Linked DNA regions of Homo sapiens: region 1 is linked to region 2. The links come from fine-mapping of genetic effects on gene expression. A gene starts in region 2. The other region holds a variant in brackets. All regions are shown on one strand. Distances are between the middles of the regions. Region 1 has its middle 110 kb from the start of MARCHF5. Region 2 holds the start of MARCHF5 (membrane associated ring-CH-type finger 5).

Region 1 (11,796 bases), 110 kb before region 2:
AATTCTGACCCTCCTCAAATTGCTCCTGGGGACAACATCACTGTTGTAAAGCCCAAGATCAGTGCTTGAGATATTCTGCAGATCCTGCACTTAATGGATCAGCTGACACCACCCAGACCCATAAACTGGCTCATCTGATCTTGTGATCCCCACCCAGGAACTGACTCAGCGCAAGAGTACAGCTTCGACTCCCTATGATTTCGTCTCTGACCTGACCAGCCAACACTCCCAACTCCCTGGCCCCCCACCCACCAAATTACCCTTAAAAACTCTGATCCCCACCAGGTGTGGTGGCTCATGCTTGTAGCTTTGGGAGGCCAAGGCGGGCAAATCACTTGAGGTCAGGAGTTTGAGACCAGCCTGGCCAACATGACAAAACCCTGTCTCCAAAATTAGCCAGGCATGGAGGCACATGTGTGTAATCCCAGTTACTCCAGAGGCTGAGGCAGGAGAATCCCTTGAACCTGGGAGGCGGGAGGCAGAGATTGCAGTGAGCAGAGATTGCACCACTGCAACTCCAGCCTGGGCGATAGAGCAAGACTTTGTCTCAAAAAAAGAAAAACAAAAACAAAAAAACCTTTGTTCCCCAAATGCCTGGGGAGACTGACTGAGTAATAATAAAACTGTAGGGGGCACAGCCAGCTCTGCATGAATTACTCTTTCTCTATTGCACTTCCCCTGTCTTGATGAATTGGCTCTGGCTAGATAGCGGGCGAGGTGAACCCCTCAGGCGGTTACACAGGTACTGTATGAGGCTCCCATCCCCTCCAGACTTTGTCTTGACCTGTTGTAAAATCCAACTGCATGTATTTACTGTCCCTCCTATAGGAAGCATCTCTGAGATCTGAGTTAGGTAGCATTTGCTTTCAGCAAGAGAGCAAGGAGGGGGCAAAACCCAAACTTACACCTAGCTCCTTCTCTCCTCCATATCTAAGTGCCCACAGCCTTCACTGGTGAGGAGGCCTGCCTTCCCCAGCACAGCTCTGTGCACCAAGCTACCCTGTCATTTGGCAAGAGCAGATCAGGAAGTGCTGACCTCTTGGCTCAGTCTCCTGTGAGCCATTCCTGGGCTTGAATGAGATCTCTAGTTTAGAGAGGCAGCACAGAGGAACCTCCAGGTAATAATAAGAACCTGATACCGGCCAGGTGCGGTGGCTCACGCCTGTAATCCCAGCACTTTGGGAGGTTGAGGCGGGGGATCACGAGGTCAGGAGTTCAAGACCAGCCTGGCCAAAATGGTGAACCCCCGTCTCTACTAAATATACAAAAATTAGCCAGGTGTGGTGGCAGTTGCCTGTAATCCCAGCTACTCGGGAGGCTGAGGCAGGAGAATCACTTGAACCCGGGAGGCAGAGGTTGCAATGAGCTGATATTATGCCACTGCACTCCAGCCTAGGTGACAGAGTGAGACTCCGTCTTAAAAAAAAAAAAAAAAGAACCAGATACCAAAGAAAACACAGGACACCTGGCATCTGGTCCAGCCTCACTAACTGGCCATGTGAACCTGGATGAACCATTTGGGCTCAGTTTGCCTGTCTGTGAAATGAGGAAGGTTTTTTATTTTTTGTAGAGAAAGGGTTTCATTATGTTGCCTAGGCTGGTCTTGAACTCCTGGGCTCAAGTGATGTCTTGCCTCAGCCTCCCAAAGAGATGGGATTACAGATATGAGCCACCGTGCCTGGCCTAAGCCACTGAATTTTGAGGTGATTTATTATATTGCAATAACTAACTGAAACATGAGGAGAACCTGGTCACAAAATCCATCACATCCTTAGAGAAGTTAGAAAAAACATCTAAAATTCTTAGTTCTGGGCCAGGTGAGGTGGCTTATGCCTGTAATCCCAGCACTTTGGGAGGCTGAGGCAGGTTGATCACAAGTTAAGGAGTTTGAGACAAGCCTGGCCAACATGGTGAAACCCCGTCTCTACTAAAAATACAAAAATTAGCCGGGCGTGGTGGCGCACACCTGTAATCCCAGCTACTCAGGAGGCTGAGGCAGGAGAATTGCTTGAACCTGGGAAGCGGAGGTTGCAGTGAGCTGAGATCATGCCACTGCACTCCAGCCTGGGTGACAGAGCAAGACTCCGTCTTGAAAAAATAAAATTAAAAAAGTTCTTAGTACCTCTGGTTTCTTCTCTGGGTTCTTAATATTCTTCTTCCCTGTATTCCGGACACCATCTCTCCCCCAGCTCCAAGGTTACTGCGCCCCTGCCAGCCTTGAGATGAAGGTTCTGGGCTGTCTGTGCTCTGTGGCTCAAGCTGTGTTCTTCCCGATGCTGCTGTTGCTCTCCTCTCACCTGCACTTGGTGCAGGAGGAGCCAGTCCTTACCATGCAACCTTATGCCAAGGGCTTTGATTCAGCTGCTGCCTTGTAGGCTGTCATGAGGCCAGTTTCCCTTTCTCTTTCCCTTGGGGGTAGGGAGACAAGGGTGGCCCCTGGGGAGGATACTGGACTCCCAGGAGCAGATGCTGAGGAGAAAGGTAAGCCCTGATCTCACCCTCAGCCTGGGAACCTGGGCCATGCTTCTACTCTCTTCCTCGGGAGGCCTGCTAGAGACCCATGCTGCTCCAAGGGCCCTGGAAGCAGCCTGCGCCTCTGGAAGCTCGGCTCCCAAATCCAACTTCCTCCTTGTAAATTTCAGTCTCTCCCAGCCCTCTTGGGTCAGGATACCACGATTGCTGCAGGATCTGCCCTGGCTGAAGGTTTAAGAACTGCCAAACTTTTCATTAGAGAGCTTTAAAGAGGAGCAGAAAGGGATTGCACATTTTAGTAGGATCACTGTGGCTGCTGAGTGAAAAAGAGACTGCGAGGCAGCCCAGGCAGAACAGGAGGCTGGGCGGGAGGTGAAAGATGAGAGGGGTTTAGACTGTGGCTGGAGCCAGACAGGAGCCTGCAGTGTGTTGACATGGGGTTGGATTCCACGTGTATATTGAGGGTAGAGGCAGCAGCATTTGCTGATGGATTAGATGTGAGGAGCAAAAGAAAAAGCTTCAAGATTTAGGGACTGAGCAACCGGAAGGGTGAAGATGAACTGAGGTGAGGAAGGATGGGAAGAACAAGCTGGGATGCACAGGGGAAGAGAAAGAGCTCGGGATGCTGGATTGGGAATCCAGGAATCAAAGCCCTAATATCATGTCTGCCGCACGCTAATAACAACACTTAACTAATCACTTACATAGGCCAGGCCCTCTTCCAAGCACTTTCCATACATCATCTCCATCTCCTCATGATGGCCCTACAAGGTAGATTTCATCATCCTCATTTCACAGAGAGGAAACAGGGAGGCTAAGGGATTTGCTGCACAGGGACACAGCAGCAGAGCTGGGCTCGTAAGCAGGCAGAAAACTGCCTCCTGTTGTACATATATCCATTTCACTTGCTGAGCTTGTTTCCTCCTCTGAAAATCAAGAGGTTGGAGTGCAGATCTCTAAGTCCTGACACCGTAAATGGGCCCAGTGTAGGCTGTGGCTCTTTCTGGCAGAGGACATTTCATGCCAACACTTAGCACGTGGGCTTTCACTGCTGCAGTGAAAAGCAGTACAAAGAAAATACCCAATGACCCACATTCTGGTTTTGAGAATATTGTGATGTATTATGAATGGATCCTTCCGAAGTGTGGTTTGAACACCTAGTTAAATAATAATTCATTCCTGGATATGAGACATTTTGAAGGATAGGCTCTAATGGAATAATATTATGAATTGTGAATTGGAACATTAAATTAAATATGAAGTTACATTCTTTTCTGTCACCTCCAGCTTTCTTCTTGGGGGAATCAATGAATTTCTATAGAAAGCAGAGCTTCCTGAGCCCCTCACATGTATTTTTGTGTGTCTGTGTTTTTTTGTGTGTCTCATTAATGAGCCAATTAGTGGGAATAGGAGGAGAAACACAATCTCGTTGCAGGATTTTTTACTCACATAGTCCTCCGTAGCCTCCACAGGTGTTACACTCTGTTCAGGCGACTACAACAAAAATACCATAGACTGGGTGGCTTACAACAACAACATTTATTTATTTATTTAGAGATGCGATCTCTGTCACTCAGGCTGGAGTGCAGTGGGGCAATCATGGCTCACTGCAGCCTCAATCTTTCTGGCTCAACCAATTCTCCTACCTCAGCCTCCAGAGTAGGTGGGACCACAAGTGCACACCACCATACCCCACTAATTGTTTTTTTAATTTCTGTACAGGTGGGGTCTTGACTTGTTGCCCAGGCTGGTCTTGAACTCCTGGGCTCAAGCAATTCTCCTGCCTCAGACTCCCAAAGTGCTGGGATTACAAGCATGAGCCTGGTAAGTCCAAGATCAAGGTGGCAGCAGATCTGGTGTCTGCAGAGTATCCGCTTTCTGGTGTGCAGGTGACCATCTTCTCATTGTACTGAAGCAGCGTCATTGTCTGGGGTAAATACCCAAGGTTTGTTGTCTCTTGCCAAGGGAATGGAGGACATGGACACACAAGGAGTGAGTTTAAGAGCGGAGGTTTATTGGCCGAGTGCGGTGGCTCATGCCTGTAATCCCAGCACTTTGGGAGGCTGAAGTGGGTGGATCACTTGAGGTCAGGAATTCAAGACCAGCCTGGCCAACATGGTGAAACCCTGTCTCTACAAATATACAAAAATTAGTCCAGCGTCATGGTGCACGCCCGTGATCCCAGCTACTCGGGAGACTGAGGCTGGAGAATTGCTTGAGCCCAAGAGGCAGAGGTTGCAGTGAGCCAAAATCGAGCCACTGCCCTCCAGCCTGGGTGACAGAGTGAGACTCCATCTCAGAAAAAAAGGAAAAAAAAAAAGAGCAGAGGTTTAATAGGCAAAAGAGAAAAGAGAATAGCTCTCTCTCTCCTGCAGAAAGAAAGGGGTGCCTGAGTGGGTCTTCTGGTTTTGTGGTGAAATGCACTGGTTTTTATAGGAAAGCTGGAGGAGGGAGTGTCTCTGATTTACACAGGGCCCAAGAGATTGGTCAGACCAGGTGTGACATTTGGATAGCAGGTAAGAAGCTGGCCATCCCACCCTAATCTTTTATTGTGCAGATGGGGTCTCTAACTGGCTGGCACCATGTTGTCTGTTCCTTACTGTACACGTGGTTGACAAAGAAAAGGGAAGATGGAGCCGCCATGTTGAACATGCCTGGCCCCCGGGTAGCCTTTTCCTATTGACGCAGCTGCCAGCATTCACCCATGCAAACTTCCAGCTTACTTATCTATGTCTGCAGCTCAATTTTACAGGCTGCTCTTTGTTAGAAAAGAAATTATTTTAGGGCTGCTTTCCATTAACAGAAAAACCTTACTGAGGACTTTCTTACCCTCACTATCTGCCTAAACAATTTCTGAACTCCTATATCAGTATCGTCACATGGTGGAGAGCAGAGAGAGGAAGCAACTTCTGTGACTCTTCTCACAAGGGCACTGATCCCATTCATGAGGGGGTAACCACCCAGTCGGTTCACCTTGCCCGCTGCCTAGACAGAGCAGATTTATCAAGACAGGGGAACTGCGATAGAGAAAGAGTAATTCATGCAGAGCCAGCTGTGCAGGAGACTGGAGTTTTCTTATTACTCAAATCAGTCTCCCTGAGCATTTGGGGATCAGAGTTTTTAAGGACAACTTGGTGGGTGGGGGGAGGCCAGTGAGCCAGGAGTACTGATTGGTCGGAGATGAAATCATAGTGAGTCAAAGCTGTCTTCTTGCGCTGAGCCAGTTCCTGGGTGGGGGCCACAAGATCAGATGAGCCAGTTTATCAATCTGGGTGGTGCCAGGGTCTGCAAGTACAGGGTCTGAAAAATATCTCAAGCACTGATCTTAGGAGAAGTTTAGGGAGGGTCAGAATCTTGTAGCCTGCTGCATGACCCCTAAACCATAATTTCTAATCTTGTGGCTAATGTTAGTTCTACAAAGGCAATCTAGTCCCCAGGCAAGAAGGAGGTCTGCTTTGGGAAAGGGCTGTTGAGGTCTTTGTTTTAGACTTAAGTTTCTCCCAAAGTTAGTTCAGCCTATGCCCAAGAATGGAAAAGGACAGCTTGGAAGTTAGGGCCGGGCACGGTGGCTCACGCCTGTAATACCAGCACTTTGGGAGGTCGAGGCGGGC[G/A]GATCACGAGGTCAGGAGATCAAGACCATCCTGGCTAACACGGTGAAACCCCATCTCTACTAAAAATACAAAAAATTAGCCCGGCGTGGTGGCGGGTGCCTGTGGTCCCAGCTACTCGGGAGGCTGAGGCAGGAGAATGATGTGAACCCGAGAGGCAGAGCTTGCGGTGAGTCAAGATCGCGCCACTGCACTCCAGTCTAGGCGACAGAGCAAGACTCCGTCTCAAAAAAAAAAAAAAAAAAAAAAAAGAAAGAAAGAAAGGACAGCTTGGAAGTTTGGAAGTTAGAAGCAAGATGGGGTCGATTAAGTCAGCTCTCTTCCACTGTCTCAGTCATCATTGTGCAAAGGTGGTTTCAAGGGCTCCACCCTCATGACCTAATTACTTCCCAAAGGCCCCCACCTTCTAATACCATCACACTGGGGATCAGGAGGCCATCCTCAGAATTTTGGGGGAACATGAACATTCAGTTCATAGCTGCAGGGAAGTAAGTGTTCAAAGTGTTATTCACTGGGCTGGGCAGACCTCTGTGTGAGTCCCAGATCAGCTGCTTACCAGCCAAGAGGAGTTACTTAACCTTGTTAAGACTACAAGACTGCTATACAGTGACCTTTCAGAAAACTTTTCTCTTGTGATTTCTTCTTTAAACCTGGGGTTATTTAAAAGTATGTTGTTATCTGTCTCTAAAAAAATTTTAAAAATTAGCTGGTGACACATGCCTATAGTCCCAGCTACTTGGGAGACTGAGGCAGGAGGATTGCTTGAGCTCAGGAGGCTGAGGCTGCAGTAAGTCATGATCACATTACTGCACTTCAGCTTGGGTGACAAAGGGAGACCCTTTCTCAGGAAAAACAAAAAAACAAAAAAAACCTGTGTTGTTTAGTTTCCAAATATTTGTGGAATTCCTAAATTTCCTATCACTTTTTCTTTTTCTTTTTTTTTTTGAGGTGGAGTCTGGCTCTGTAGCCCAGGCTGGAGTGCAGTGGCATGATCTCGGCTCACTGCAAGCTCTGCCTCCCGGGTTCACACGGTTCTCCTGCCTCAGCCTCCCGAGTAGCTGGGACTACAGGCGCCCTCCACCATGCCTAATTTTTCTGTATTTTGAGTAGAGAGGGGGTTTCACCATGTTAGCCAGGATGTTCTTGATCTCCTGACCTCGTGATCCACCCGCCTCGGCCTCCCAAAGTGCTAGGATTACAGGCGTGAGCCACTGTGCCTGGCCCATTTTTGATTTTTCATATAATTTCATTATGGCCAGTAAACACACTTTGTGTGATTTCCACCCTTTTATAGTTATTGAGACTTGCTTTTTATCCTAGAGAATGTTCTAAGTGGGCCTGAAAAGAATGTATATTCTGCTACCATTGAGTGGAGTGCTCTATAATGATGAGTTAGGTCAAATAGGAGGATGTGTATCTCTACTTATTTTCGTTGAGTTCTATTTCTCATTTTAACTCTTATTTTTTTCATATATTTTGATTATCTATTGATTGATACATATATAATTATAATTGTTACAACTTCACATATTGACCCTTTTAAATATTCTTTTTCTTTTTTTTCAATAGAGATGGGGTCTCGCTATGTTGGCCAGCCTGGTTTTGAATTCCTGGTCTGAAGCAATCCTCCCACCTCAGCTTCCCAAAGTGCTGAGATTACAGGAGTGAGCCACTGTGCCCAGACAATTCACCCTTTTATTCTTGTGAAATGTCCCTCTTTTTTTTTTTTTTTTTTTTTTTTTGAGACAGAGTTTTCACTCTTGTTGCCCAGGCTAGAGTGCAATGGTGTGATCTCAGCTCACTGCAACCTCTGCCTCCTGGGTTCAAGCGATTCTCCTGTCTCAACCTCCCAAGTAGCTGGGATTACAGGTGCATGCCACCACACCTGGCTAATTTTTGTATTGTTAGTAGAGATGGGGTTTCATCATATTGGCCAGGCTGGTCTCGAACTCCTGACCTCAGGTGATCCGCCCACCTCGGCCTCCCAAAGTGCTGGGATCACAGGCATGAACCACCGTGTCCAGCCAAAATGTCCCTTTTTGTTTCTAGTATTGTTGCTTGGCTTAAAGTCTATTTTGTCTAATATGAATATAGCCACTCCAGCTCTCTTTTGGTTATTGTTTGCATGGTATATCTTCTTTCATCCTTTTACTTTCTGAGAAATTCTTTATTTCTCCTTTGCTTTAAGGATTATTTCACAGAATACAGAATTGTAAGTTGGTGGGGTTTTTTTCTCTCAATACTTTTTTTTTTGTTTGAGACGGAGTCTTGCTCTGGTGCCCAGGTTGGAGTGCAGTGGTGCGATCTCCGCTCACTGCAAGCTCTGCCTCCCGGGTTCACGCCATTCTCCTGCATCAGCCTCCCGAGTAGCTGGAGGCTACAGGTGCCTGCCACCACGCCCTGCTAATTTTTTTTTTGTATTTTTAGTAGAGACAGGGTTTCACCGTGTTAGCCAGGATGGTCTCAATCTCCTGACCTCGTGATCCGCCCGCCTCGGCCTCCCAAAGTGCTGGGATTACAAGCGTGAGCCACCCAGCCTGGCCCTCTCAATTTCACTTCACCCACTTTTTGCTTGCATGGCTTCTGATGAAAAGTTGGATGTAATTCTTTTCTTTGCTCCCCTACAGGTAAGGTGTTCCCTGCCCCCTCCCCTGATTTCTTTCAGTATTTTTCTTTTTTCTTTTTCTTTGAGATAGGATCTCACTGTGTTGCCCAGGCTGGTCTCAAACTCCTGGGCTCAAGCAATTCTCCCCACTCAGCCTCCCAAGTAGCTGGGATTACAGGTGTGAGCCACCACACCTGCTAGTATTTCTCTTTATCTTTGATTTTCTGTCATTTGGCAATGATATGCCTCAGTATAGTTTTTCTGGCATTTATCCTGCTTGTGTTCTCTGAGCTTCCTAGATCTGTGGTTTTGAATCTAACATTAATTTGGGAAATTCCCAGTAATTATTGTTTCAAATATTTCTTCTGATCATTTTTCTCTTTTTTTCCCCTGGTATTCCCATTATGTGTATAATTCTCCCACAGTTCTTGAATATTCTGGGGTTGGCTTTTTAGTCTTTTTTCTCTTTGCTTTTCAACTTTGGGGATTTTTTACTGAGCTATCCTCAAATGCAGAGATTCCTCAGCTGTGTCTAGTTTACTAATAAGTCCATTAAAGGCGTTCTTCATTTCTGTTACATAGCATTTATTTTTGATCATTTCTTAGAATTTCCATTTCTCTGCCTACATTGCACACCTGCTCTTGCATGCCTGTCTACTTTATCCATTGGATCCCTTAGAATATTAATCAGAGTTGTTTTAAATTCCTAGTCTGACAGTTCCAACATCCTTGCCATCTCAGCCTGATTTTGATACTTGCTCTGTCTCTTCAAACTGTGTTTTTGCCTTGTAGTATGTCTTGTGATTTTTTTTTTTTTTTTTTTTTTTTTTTTTTTTGAGACGGAGTCTCGCTCTGTCACCCAGGCTGGAGTGCAGTGGCGGGATCTCGGCTCACTGCAAGCTCCGCCTCCCGGGTTCACGCCATTCTCCTGCCTCAGCCTCCCAAGTAGCTGGGACTACAGGCGCCCGCCACTACGCCCGGCTAATTTTTTGTATTTTTAGTAGAGACGGGGTTTCACCGTTTTAGCCGGGATGGTCTCGATCTCCTGACCTCGTGATCCGCCCGCCTCGGCCTCCCAAAGTGCTGGGATTACAGGCGTGAGCCACCGCGCCCGGCCCTCTTGTGATTTTTTTCTTGCTAGCCAAACATGATATACTGGGTAAAAGGAACAGCTGTACATCGGCCTTGAGTGATGTGGTGGTGAGGTGTGGGGGAGGGGGAGTATTCTATGTTCCCATGATTAGGTGTCAGCCTTGCAGTGAGCCTGTGCCTCTGGCCTGTGAACTTTACACATGTTTCTTGGTTCACCTGCCTTCCCATTTAGTGAGACAGGCTGGCTAGAATGGGCTGGGGTTGGGTATTTCCCATGCTCCGTGTTGAAGGCTAGAGCCAGCAAGTTGGATATTTACTCTTTTCCCAGGTCAGTCAGGCTCTGATAAAACCCCAGCAGGTTAGACCCTAGTTAATTAGTTTCCCCTAAGGGTAGACCTCGTTAAGAAAAACCAAATGCTCTGTTTACAGTCATGCCTTGATTAACGATGGGGATACATTCTGAGAAATGTATCGTTAGGTGATTTCATCATCGTGGAATCATCATAGAGTGAACTTCCACAAACCGAGATGGTATCGCCTACTACACAGCTGTATGGTATATGGTATAGCCTGTTGCTCCTGGGCTACGAACCTCACAGCATGTTACTGTATTGAATGCCATAGGCAATTGTAAGACAATGGTGAGTATTTATGCATCTAAACATAGAAAAGGTACAGTGAGGCCGGGCACAGTGGCTTATGCCTGTAATCCCAGCACTTTGGGAGGCCGAGGAGAGTGGATCATCAGAGGTCAGGAGTTCGAGACCAGCCTGGCCAACATGATGAAACCCTATCTCTACTAAAAATACAAAAATTAGCTGGGCATGGTGGCAGGCGCCTGTAATCCCAGCTACTCAGGAGGCTGAGGCAGGAGAATTGCTTGAACCCAGGAGGCGGAGGTTGCAGTGAGCCGAGATCACGCCATTGTACTCCAGCCTAGATGATAAGAGTGAAACTTCGTCTAAAAAATAATAATAAAGTAAAAATACAATATTAGCATCTTTTATTTTCTAATTTTTATTTTTATTTTTGAGAGATGAGGGTCTCACTATGTTGGCCTTGAACTCCTGGCTTCAAGCAATCCTCCTGCCTCAGCCTTCTGAAGTGCTAGGATTACAGGTGTGAGCCACCATGCCCAGCCAATATTAGCATCTCATGGGACCACCACCATATATGCCCAAAATGGTATGTGGTACGTTACTGTGTTTCAAAATGGTTCCTTTCCCCCTCCCCCTGCAGGAAGCATGAGGGGATTTTTCTCTAATATTTACTGTAGAACCTGGTTGAGCTCCCAGAGGTAAAACTCACAAAAATAAGGGAGCCCCCACTCCATGACTGGAACCCACTGGAGTTTTTGGGATTTTTTTGTGTTTTATTTGTTTGTTTGTTTTTCAGAGACAGGGTCTTGCTCTGCTGCCCAGGCTGGAGTGCTGCGATGCGATCATAGCTCACTGCAACCTCAAACTCCTGGGCTCCAGCAATCCTCAGCCTCCACCTCCCTCCTCAGTAGCTAGGACTACAGGCACGTGCCACCACTCCTGGCTAGTTTAATTTTCAGTAGAGACAAGGTCTTGCTATGTTGCCCAGCTTGGTCTCAAACTTCTACTCCTGGGCTCAAGTGATCCTCCTACCTTGGCCTCCCAAAGTGTTGGGATTATAGGCGTGAACGACCGTGCCCGGCCCCCTGGAGGTTTTGACTTTCAGGCTCCTGCACACTGACCATCCCGCAGCTCATTACTTACAATTTAGGTTTCCCTTCCTGGGTGCTGGTTCCTGTGGCCATTTCAGCTCATGGGTTGCTGCTCCGGTAAGTTGTGATTCTCTGTATTCGCCTGCCCATCTCTCCAAGTGTGGGGGCAGCGATTTGCCCTGTGACCTCACTTCTCTTATGCATCTAAGAAGAGTTGATTTTTCAGTTTGTTCAGCTTTTTACTTGTTGTTAGTATAGAGTGGCGACTGCCGAGCTCCTTGCGTGCCAGACCAGAAACCTGACACCCTCTGTTCAGCTTTTTATTCTTA
Region 2 (11,796 bases):
TGGGCAACGTGGTGAAACTCCATCTCCACAAAAAAAATACAAAAAATCAGCTAGGTGTGGTGGTGCACACCAGTAGTCCCAGCTACTCTGGAAGCTGAGGTGGGAGGATCACTTGAGCCTGGGAGGTTGAGGCTGTAGTGAGCCGTGACTGTGACCCTCCACTCCAGCCTGAGCAATGGAGTAAGACCCTGACTCAAAAAAAAAAAAAAAAAAGTAGTCTATTAATATACTTTTCTATATAAAAGCATTAAACCAAGAAGGATGGAAGAATATAAACCCATTTTATGATAGTGGAGTGGGGATGAGAAGATATGCCATTGGGGATGGTGGTCAAAGGGGATTTAATTTTATCTATGATGTTTCCATTTTTTACATATATCTGGAAATAAATATAATTGATGATGATTTTTAATTCTGGGCATTGGTCTGTAATTGTCAACATGGTGATGTGATTGAGAAAAAGAGGTCAACTGACAAAGAAAATGTGAAATTGTTTATACAGCATGCTCCTATCAGAGTATAGCTTCCTTGGTCTTCAAAGGGGTATACATCTGTGGATAACACTCTCACAGAGGCAGAATTCTAATTCACTATACCATTGTGGGAGGGGGCTGGAAGAATAGACCACTCTCTCTGCTCTTTCTGCCATCTGACCATTCTGGGGACATTCTGGCTACACTCCTTGCCTATTTACTAGATGCAAGTAAGTGATGCAAAACAACCTCAACAAATTAATGCGTGTTTATTTTAAGACGGGGGAAGCAGAAGTAGTTTCCAAAAGCATTTCTCAGTAGGTCCAGGCTTCAAATCAGAGGTCCATTCCTGCAGTTTGTTATAATATTCTTTGCATTGTTCTCTGTAAATTCACTCCTAACTTTGAGAAGTTTTAGAGAAAAATGAGAATGTCGGTGGTCAAAGAGAAAGTAATATATAACAACTTCTTATTAAAGAATTGAAGCAATGAAAGACAGAAGAGCTAACTAAGGTTCAAAAGGCCTGACATAAAGGGTTTGGGCTTATGAATGGTTATCATTTCAGGGAAATGATATTTGTGACACTGAAACATTCACGACACTAGAAAAATCACCCCCCTTTCCACCATTCTTGTTTCCCCACAACAACTTAAAAGGTTCAAATAATAAATTTACATAAAACACTTATAGTTTATAAAAACGAAAGGCAATCCAAAGAATATATATCCATATGGTCAGGAGTGGTGGCTCACCCCTGTAATCCCAGCACTTTGGGAAGCAGAGGTAGGTGGATCACCTGAGGTCAGGAGCTCGAGACCAGCCTGACCAACATAGAGATACCCAGTCTCTACTAAAAATACAAAATTAGCCAGGCGTGGTGGCACATGCCTGTAATCCCAGCTACTCCGGAAGCTAAGGCAGGAGAATCACGCGAACCCGAGAGGCGGAGGTTGTGGTGAACCGAGATCGCGCCACTGCCCTCCAGCAGCCTGGGCAACAAGAGCGAAATTCCATGAAAAAAAAAAAAATTCCATATATATATGTATGTATGTATATATATACGTATGTATATGTATTCTTTCCACCTACAAATATTACAGTAATCAAAGTTACCAATATAAACAAATAATAGCTAAACTAAAGTGAGTTATTTGCAAAGGACAAGGGAATTCAACTTCAGCTATTAAGAAGTTGCCACAGGCCAGGCACGGTGGCTCACGCCTGTAATCCCAGCACTGTGGGAGGTCAATTCCGGCAGATTACGACGTCAGGAGATCGAGACCATCCTGGCTAACACGGTGAAACCCCGTCTCTACTAAAAATACAAAAAAATTAGCTGGCCTTAGTGGCGGGTGCCTGTAGTCCCAGCCACTCGGGAGGCTGAGGCAGGAGAATGGCGTGAACCCAAGAGGCACAGTTTGCAGCGAGCCAAGATTGCGCCACTGCACTCCAGCCTGGGCGACTGAGCGAGACTCTGTCTCAAAAAAAAAAATAAAAAATAAATAAATAAATAAATAAAAGAAGTTGTCACCAGTTGGCCCAAGTGACAGAGTGAGACTTCGCCTCAAAAAAAAAAAAAAAAAAAAAAAAAGAAAAGTTGCCTCTAGTTTAAAAACCCTGAAAGATTAAATGGTATAAATTGAACATACCATTCATATTACAATTAAAATAGTCTTCACTTTGACAGTTTAGACAACACAAACACCCCTGGAATTGAAGCTCCATAAGGGCATTTTTGTTATGTTCAATTCACCACTATATACCAAGGGCCTAGAATAGTACTGGGCATATGAAGACACTCAGTATTTGTTAAATAAATTCAATAAGTGTAAATGTTTAATAATTGATTTACTGAAAAATAACATTTTTTTTTAAGACAGGGTCTTGCTCTGTTACCTGGGCTGTAGTACCCAGGGGCACAAACACAGCTCACTACAGCCACGACCCCCAAGGAATCCTTCCACCTCAGCTTCCTGAATATTTGGGACCACAGGCATGTGCCACCAGGCCTGGCCTAATTTTTAACATTTTTGTAAAGACTGAGTCTTGCCATGTTGCCCACACTGGTGTCTAACTCCTGGGCTCAAGCAATCCTCTCATCTCGGCCTCCCAAAGTGCTGGGATTACAGGCATGAGCTACTGTGCCTGGCCTAAATAAAATACGTAACTTAACCTAAAAGCAACAGAACAATATGTAACACACAGTTCCTTAGTCTTCACGAAGATAAAACCTGCATTAAAGAAATAAACAAATGAACAGTTATCTGAGCTAAATTCTGTCCCTCAAAAATTGCCACCAAAAACCAGGTTGGGGAGAAGCCAAATTCATGAAAAGAATTCTGGGTCCTAATAGGCTGACATATTTTAGTCTCTTGGCCCTGTTGGTATTCCTCAAGTGAACCATGTTGAGTATCTTTGTGTTCAACTTGCAGTAGGGCCAGCCCAGGTGAAGAAAGCTGTAAACATAAAGTAGATGGGGGAAAAATGGCCAAACTGGTTTACATTAGTCTTAAGTGCCTTCTATTTGGCTAACATAGAGTGTTTTGCTGTTTTATAGAGATGTATGTTTCATTTGCTGTAGCCCTGTGAAGTAGGGTTCTCATTTTATAAATGATAATATACATAGTGTCAGAATCTAAGTTCAAAGTCACATAGCTAGTAAGTGGCAAAATTCGAATTTCATACTTTCTATCTCTGAGCCCAAGCTTTACTCACTATACCCTACTATCTCTTATCATGAAAGATATCACTGACTTAGGACTTAGGGCAGTAGGTTTCTGCCATATCTAAAACATTTAAAAAGCTTTAAAATATAGATGCCCAGGCTCTACCCTACAGAAATTTTTGATCTTATTGGTCTTACAGTCCAGCATCCATGCATATTCTGAAATGCTCCCCAGGTAATTCTAACATGGAAGTAGGTTGCCAACTACTAATCTAGACAATAACGGTCTTTGAAAGTCATGTTAAAAATCTACCTTAAGGTATGTCAAAAGAGTACAAAGATGAGAGTAGTACAAAGATGAGAGTAAGCCAGTGTCATAGTCACCTACTTCAGTAAATGGCAGCCAGAATCTTCGCATTTCTGTTAATAAGTTTTAAATGCCTCACTAGCTTTTTTTTTTGAGATGGAGTTCCACTCTGTCACTCAGGCTGGAGTACAATGGTGCGATCTCAGCTCACTGCAACCTCCGTCTCCCAGGTTCAAGCAATTCTCATGCCTCAGCCTCCCGAGAGTTGGAACTACAGGCCCACGCCACTACGCCTGCCTAATTTTTGTATTTTTTTTTTTTTTTTTAGTAGAGACAGGGTTTCACCATGTTGGCTAGGCTGGTCTCAAAGGCCTGAGCTCTAGTGATCTGCCTGCCTTGGCCTCCCAAAGTGCTGGGATTACAAGGGTGAGCCACCGTGCCCAGGCTCACTCTTTGGCTTCTTACTTTTATGGAAATATCCAAAGAGCATATGAAAAGTTAGGTCAGCTTTTGGACATAAGAACTTTTCTAGGCTGGGCACGATGGCTCATGCCTGACAATCCAGCACTTTGGGAGGCTAGGCGGGAGGATCACTTGAGCCCAGGAGTTTGAGACCAGCACAGGCAACATGGCAAAACTCTGGCTCTATAAAAATACAAAAAATTAGCTGGGCATGGTGGTATGTGTTGTGGTCCCAGCTACTAGGGAGGCTGAGGTAGGAGGATCACCTGAGCCTGGGAGGCGGGGGTTGCAGTGAGTTGAGATCATGCCAATGCCACTGCCACTGCCACTGCATTCCAGTCTGGGCAACAGAGACCCTGTCTCAAAAAAAGAAGAAAAAAAGTCACTATGTAAAAATGAAAAGCAGGAGGCCCTCAAAGGAAAAAAATTAACTACAAAATACCCCACATCAGAACAGGGTCTCAACAGAATAGAACTGGCAGTGGCAGGTGGTTTCCTCTGGGCATATTTTAATTTGCCACAATTTGCCAATTTACAATGAAAGGAAAACCTGGTAAATTATCAGACCCCCTAGACAACTGGGGAAACTGACAAATAAGTTTGTGCATTAGTTCATACAACAAATACTTACTGATTACCTACTGAGTACCAGGCTCTGTTCTGGGATTCAAGATAAACAATAGTAAGTTTCTGCTTCCAAGAGCTTATAAACCACACACATATCACACACATATATATATAAAGCAGTCAATACAATTGTCAGGATGTTGACCTGAAACAAGGGCTGGATGAATCACCAGTTATCTCAACTGAAAAAAATCAGTGACATAATTCCTATTAACTGAGATGGCTCAAAATTCTAAGCTCCAAAAAAATGTCTGTCACTCTGGAAGGATGTGTACCCTTGGGTCATTTGTGTTCTGGGTGTGGCAGGCCCAAAAGCATTTAACTGGGTATAAACTCAATTAAGGGAGGGCCTTCATTTAACACCTTACAGTTGGAATTTTACTGAGTACAAAGAGTTGGTACCACCTGCTGAAATGGGTGGCAAGTGGTGTCTATTGAGAATTGTAAGCAACCACAAACATCATGAATTAGCTTGTACAACTTGCTATGCCAGGAAGTAAGACTTGGCTCGGGGGAAATGTGGATCTAGAGTCTCCAAAAACTCATGGTAGGACCCACGGACCAGAATTTCAACAGCAGAGGGCGGTGCACCCGACTTCACAAAGAGTTTTACCGACTGGGGCCCCCCAAGAATGGGCAACTGGACTCCTGTACGAGCTGAAACGTCTTCAATGAACTCAACGATCGTCAAGTACACTAAATGTTCAGCGTTGGACTCATTTGGCTGTTTTCCATAACCTCTACTCTGGTCTGACCGTTAAATCTCCCTTGCGGATACTCTGACCTTACAGTTCGGAGGTGGGGACGGGATGGGGCGGGGGGGACGGGGGGTGCGGGTTCAGGGAAAGTGGGAGAATGAAATCAGCCTATCAGGCTTTCCAAAAGAATGCTTATCATTGGTTCTCAGACAGAGACTTAAAATTATAAGGGGGTCATTCCCCTGAAAGATAACCCGGTTCTTGCCAGTGACATCGCTGACAAACACTTCACAAGTTGGGGAGGGGGAAGGGGGAGGGGAAGAGGGTAAGGAAAACTAATTTTGTGGATTAACAGGAGTCCCTCTCAGGTCAAAACGGGGTTCCAAGGAAACCAGACGCCACTCCTTAGCTAAGTTTCACCCAAAGTCTACGACCCAGGCCGCTCGCTCTGTCCTCCCCCAGGTCTAGACTCCAAACTTTTTGCCCCTCTCACGGCCCCCTGGCCGTGGAACTCCTCCCGGCACGCCGGGTTCTGCTCACCAAGAGCCTCGAGGGCGGGCGCGGGCAGGGCCAGAGCGAGGGTCGGCGGCTCCCGGTCCCCCCCACAGCTGCCCGTACCTGTCCAGCATCTGCTGTAGGGCTTGGTCCGGCATCTTCCGCGGAGCCGGCGCACACGGCCTTCCCCAGTGGACCCGCTCAAGGCCAGGCCCAGGGACAATAGCACTGAGAGGCGGCGGAGTAGGCCGCAGTCCGGCGGCAGCCGCGAACCCGTCACCCAGCTTCCCGGGGCAGCTCCGCTAGCCTGGCGGCGGCGGTGCAGGGCCTGCGGGAGTCCGGCGGAGGCGGCGGAGAGCGAGGAGGAGGAGCCTGAGGCGGGGAGGCGGCGATCGCGGCCCGGGTTCCCGTCCGTCGGCCCGAGGTTCCGGTCCATGGACCGCGGGCGCCGAGTTGCTGCCGGCGGAGGAGCTACCTTTGTGAGGTAAGAGTCGCCGCCTCCGTGCGCGCCAGGGTTACGACGCAGGGCGGCCCAGAGCAGCCTGGGAGATGTAGTCTTCGGACCGTCTCCACTAGAGGCTGCACAGCCCGCCCGGACCAACGCCTCCGCGCCTGCCGCCGTCTGGCCGGCGCCCTCCCGTTTCCTTCCTCCAGGGGGAAAAAATGTCTTTCGGGCCGCTTTCCAGGAAGCAGCAGGATGCGCCGCTCCACTGTCGGTAGCAACAAGGTCAGCCCTCCCTGCCTGTTTGTTTTTGCCTCCGCTCTTGCCCTCAGGTGGGACCGAGCCAGGTGAGGGGAGGGGGCTGAAGGGCCATTTCTTATCAGGGTCCCCGGCCCCGGCCGTGGCGTCGGGGCGGTCAGTGGCGGCAGTGGGGGTGGCAGAAACTCCTTCCGAAGCCCCCGGCGCTGGAGCCAGCCTCTCCTGCGGCAGAGCCCATTTTGGGGGAATTACACCACCTCCGCGAGGGGTCGGTTGGTTTGGTGCGTGAGGTTCTTCTTGAGGGGGCGGGCAAATAGGGACTGCCTGGACCAGACAGCTTCCACCCGAGTCTCTCTGTGTGTTTGGGGCTGGGGAGTTGGGGGAAGGAAAGATGATTCTCTCCCTCTCCAGGAACCTTCTCAAATGTGCCTGGGCTTTCCAGGGCTCGCCGACAGTCTCCAAATGGAACACGTTGGTGAATAAACAGCTCTTGCTTACTCAGCTGTGGGTTGTCAGGGATGTTTGTTTCTCTCTCTGCTGCTGGTCACTGTTAACCGTTTCTAGTCGCGTTGACACCTTCAAGCAGGTGGATTGGGAGTGGCGGGGGTGGGGAATCAAAAAGGAGAAATCATCAGTCACTCCTTGGGTCAGCTTCTGACGTTCGAGGGATAGCTTTGGCGGGAGGAAAGAGCTGTCGGCTCAAACGAATGCGTTTTTTGGACGACCTGTGGCGTTTTCTCTAGGGCTGTGATTGGTAGGACGCTGGTAGTTTTCCCTTGATTATGTCTAATATCTGCTACAAGGTGTTTGATTTTTTAAAAAATGAAAATGTGTTTTTAAAGCTCTTTTTATATGTAGAATTTTACAATCAACTTTTCATTATCTGTTCAAAATTTGCGAAGTATATTTGAACTAGAGTGTTCATTGCTGGGAAAAAACAACAAACCCAAAAAATGTGACCAGAAGCTTACTTGGCCTCCAATTTTTGAAATATGTTTTTGAGAAACAGCACCCACCCCCCCCCACCACACACATACACACACACTCCTCCTAGGGAAAGAAAATGAGTATTTAGTTTAATCGGGGTGTCTAATATTTTATATATATTTGTATTATATATAATATATATGTATTATATAATATATAATACATTTATAATATATAATACATATATACATTTATAATATATAATACATATATATATATATATATATATATATTTTTTTTTTTTTTTGGTAGAGACGCGGTCTCGCCATGTTGCCCAGGCTGGTCTTGCAACTCCTGGGCTCAAGCGAGCCACCCGCATTGGTCTCCCAAAGTGTTGGGATTACAGATGTGAGTCACCGCATGTGACCAGTGTCTAATATTTTATTTAATTAATTCATTTATTTAATTAATTCATTGATTTTGAGAGATGGAGTCTTGCTCTGTTGCCCAGGCTGGAGTGCAGTGGCGCTGTCTTGACTCACTGCAAGCTCCACTTCCTGACTTCAAGTGATCCTTCTAGCCTCAGCTTCCCAAGTAGCTGGGACTACAGGTGTGTGCCACCACACCCAGCTAATTTTTGTGTTTTTTAGTAGAGATGGGGTTTCACTATATGTTGACCAGGCTGGTCTCGAACTTCTGACCTCAGGCGATCAGCCCGTCTCGGCCTCCCAAAGTGCTGGGATTACAGGGGCGAGCCACCGCGCCTGGTCTATTTTATTTTTTTGAGACGGAGTCTCGCTGTGTTGCTCAGGATGGAGTGCAGTGGCACTATCTTGGCTCACTGCAGTCTCCTCCTCCGGGTTCAGGTGATTATCGTGCCTCAGCCTCCGGAGTAGCTGGGATTACAGGCTCGCACCACCATGCCTGGCTAACTTTTGTATTTTTGGCAGAGGCAGGGTCTCACCATGTTGACCAGGCTGATCTTGAACTGATCTCAGGTGATCTGCCTGCCTCGGCCTCCCATAGGGCTGGGATCATAGATGTGAGCCACCGTGCACAGCCCGGTGTCTTAACATTTTAAATTATTATTTTTTGCTCCTTGTGCTGTGTCAGTCTAACCTTATTGTGTACTTATTTCTTAAGCAGTTGTCAGCCATGGGAGTTGGATATATACTTCCTGCTTAAAAACAGAATTTTATCCCAGCATATGGATTAAGTACACTAGTACAAACTCCAAGATTCTAAGATCTTAACCAATGTTAGAATGTCTGTTTCAACTGAAATTGGAAAATATGATACCTTTTGTTGATAGCAAAGACTTGTGCACCTTGACCTTATTATACCAACAAATGGATTTTATGTTTGCATTTTTATGAAAAATCAGCTTTCTGGCTGTGTCAAAAACCTTTTAAAGTAGAAAAAAATCCTGTTACTGGTCTAAAGAGTGATTAGCATGTGACCCAGTAATTCCACTTCTAGGTATTTTCAAGAGAAATGAAAACATGTCTACACAAAATCTTGTTTGTGAATGTTCATAGCAGCATTATTCTGGGTTTTTTTTTTTTTTTTTTGAGACAGAGTCTCGCTTTGTCATCCAGGCTGGAGTGCAGTGGCGCCAGCTCACTGCATCCTCAGCCTCAGGGGCTCAAGCACTCCCCCTGCCTCAGCCCCCCAAGTAGCTAGGACTACAGGGGCGCACCACCATGTCTGGCTTAAAAAAATTTTTTTTGTAGAGATGGTGTTTTGCCATGTTGCCCAGGCTGGTTTCGAACTCATGAGCACAAATGATCCTCCCACCTCGGCCTCCCAAAATGCTAGGATTACAGGCATGAGCCACAGCACCTGGCCTACAGCATTATTCTTGATAGCCAAAAAGTGGAAACCCAAATATCCACCAGTTGATGAATGGATAAACCACATGTGGTGTATCATACAATAGAATATTATTAGGAGAAAACAAGGAATAAAGTTATGATACATGCTATAACATGAAAGAACCTTGAAAACATTATACCAAGTGAGAGGAGCCAGTCACAAAGACCACATATTGTATGATTCTGTTTGCATGAAAAGTCAAGAATAGGCAACTCCATAGAGACGGAAAGTAGACTAGTGATTGCATAGGGCTGAAGGAGTTGGGGAGAAATGGGGAGTGACTGCTAATGAGTATGAGGTTCCTTATTAGAGGGATGAAAGTATTCTAGAATTAGATAATGGTTCTGGTTATATAATTTTGTGAATTATATCACAAATAAGATAAAATTAGATTATGGTAATAGTGGCAAAACTGTAAATATACTCAAAAACCCATTGTACACTTAAAAGGGGTGAATTTTAATGTTACATAAATTACATCTCAATAAAGCTTTTAAAAGAGTAATTAGCTCCACAGAAAATGTTCATAAGGGTATCTGAAAAGAAGCATATAAACAGATAACTGATAATTCTTTATTATCAACTTTGTTTCTTATTAGTATGGGCAAAAATAGTGATTGATAAAACTCAGAAAATAAATTAATCCTAACATTTGAAATGGGTGACACATATTGTGTGAATTTCAATATTGTTTGTCAGCTTTGTTTTTTGTGGTCTTACATTTTCCAATAAGACTCAGAATAATTGGAATTACAATATATTCTCTGATTTTGAAGGAAAAAAGTCTAGATTATTAAGACCTTAATCTGACCAAAACCACATTGAAATGCACTCCTGCATTTATATGTAGGGTTGAAAATCTATGATAGTGGCGCATACCTGTAGTCCCAGCTACTCAGGAGGCTGAGATAGGAGAATCGCTTGAACCTGGGAGGCGGAGGTTGCAATGAGCTGAGATCGCACCACTGCACTCCAGCCTGGCAACAGAGTGAGACTCCGTCTCAAAAAAAAAAAAAAGTCTATGATAAATGATATTCAGCCAAGAGAGTAACCAGCATGACTATAGACAAAAACAACTTTTTCCTCAGAGATATATTTTGAAATAGAAATTAACCTACAGAAAATATTTAAAGATTCTCCCAAGTTCAGAGGACAAGAACAAAGCTTGATGATGTAGAGTTCTAAAGAGTTGGGATTATAGGCGCACACCACTATTTTAATAATTCTGTAATGGATTTAGAGATAACTGAGTATGAGCTGCTCTAAATATGTCAGAAAATTTAAAATAATATACCACTCTAATGTTCTTCCATCATACTTGTTTTGAACTGTCTACCATAAAGGGGCCTGGAGTATTCGTTACAGAAATGGTATAATATTTTTAGGTGCCTTCTAAGGAGAACTGTCAATTGCCAAATTTGGTGATAAACTGCAGGCTGAGTCCTCATTCCAAGCTACAGAAAGTTTTTTTTTCATTAATTCCTTCAGCAGGTGTTTCCAGAAAATATATGCATAGGTATGCTAGTAGCAAATTATAACTATACCTATGTTTTTTTTTTTTTTTTTTAGATAGAGTCTTGCTCTGCTGCCCAGGCTGGAGTGCAGTGGTGCCATCTCAGCTCACTGCAACCTCCCACTCCCAGGTTCAAGAGATTCTCATGCCTCAGCCACCTGAGTAGGTGGGATCACAGGCATGCATCACCACGCCCAGCTAATTTTTGTATTTTTAGTAGAGATGAGGTTTCTCCATGTTGCCCAGGCTGGTCTTGAACTCCTGACCTCAAGTGATCCACTTGCCTTGGCCTCCCAAAGTGCTGAGATTGCAGGCATGAGCCACTGTGCCTGGCCTATAGCTACCCTTCAGAGGCATACAATCTACATACCTAAATATGTTTATATTTAGAAAAATAAAAGCAGGCTGGGTGTGGTAGCTCACGCCTGTAATCCCAGCACTTTGGGAGGCCGAGGTGGGCAGATCACAAGGTCAGGAGATCGAAACCATCCTGGCTAACACAGTGAAACCCTGTCTCTACTAAAAATACAAAAAATTAGCCGGGCATGGTGGCGGGCGCCTGTAGTCCCAGCTACTCGGGAGGCCAAGGCTGGAGAATGGCGTGAATCCATGAGGCGGAGCTTGCAGTGAGCCGAGATTGTACCACTGCACTCCAGCCTGGGGACAGACTCCCTCTCAAAAAAAAAAAAAGAAAAAAGCAAATAAAACAGAGTATAATAATGAAATATTGTATAATGATAACATGATAGCATTTGAGGAAGTGTCAAATAAACAGCATAGAAATTTAGAGTGATGTAGAAGTTCCACTGGAAACTGTTGTGGACTGGTGTGTTAAAGAGAGCTTTGTAAAACCAATTTAGGCTCTACTTTGTAGCAAGAGGAGTAATTAATGTAGGTGAAGAGGTAAAGAAGGATCTTGGGTCTGGGTAAGAATGAAAGGATGTAAAGAAAGAAGTTATCCTTTATAACTTGAACTATAGATCTGTTATGTAAGCGGAAAATATGAAGGGCTGGTGCTGTGGTTTGAATGTGTCCCCCAATGTTCATATGTTAG

What was found.
Region 1: its variant is fine-mapped to the expression of MARCHF5 in whole blood (INTERVAL, PIP above 0.99).

Annotation. Positions count from the first base shown.
Region 1 is chr10:92,396,266-92,408,061 of GRCh38, reverse strand. No RefSeq gene overlaps it. Among named protein-coding and RNA genes, the nearest start is that of MARCHF5, 110 kb to the right of the region's middle. RefSeq lists a silencer at 675-724. The variant G/A (reference allele first, on the strand shown) is at 6,084.
Region 2 is chr10:92,285,584-92,297,379 of GRCh38, reverse strand. It overlaps MARCHF5 (membrane associated ring-CH-type finger 5), which reads right to left and starts at 6,213. Exons shown (of 6, transcript NM_017824.5): 1 at 5,851-6,213. The coding sequence starts at 5,885. CPEB3 (cytoplasmic polyadenylation element binding protein 3) reads left to right here and starts at 6,302. Exons shown (of 10, transcript NM_014912.5): 1 at 6,302-6,454. RefSeq lists enhancers at 5,273-5,851, 6,799-7,008 and a silencer at 5,989-6,238.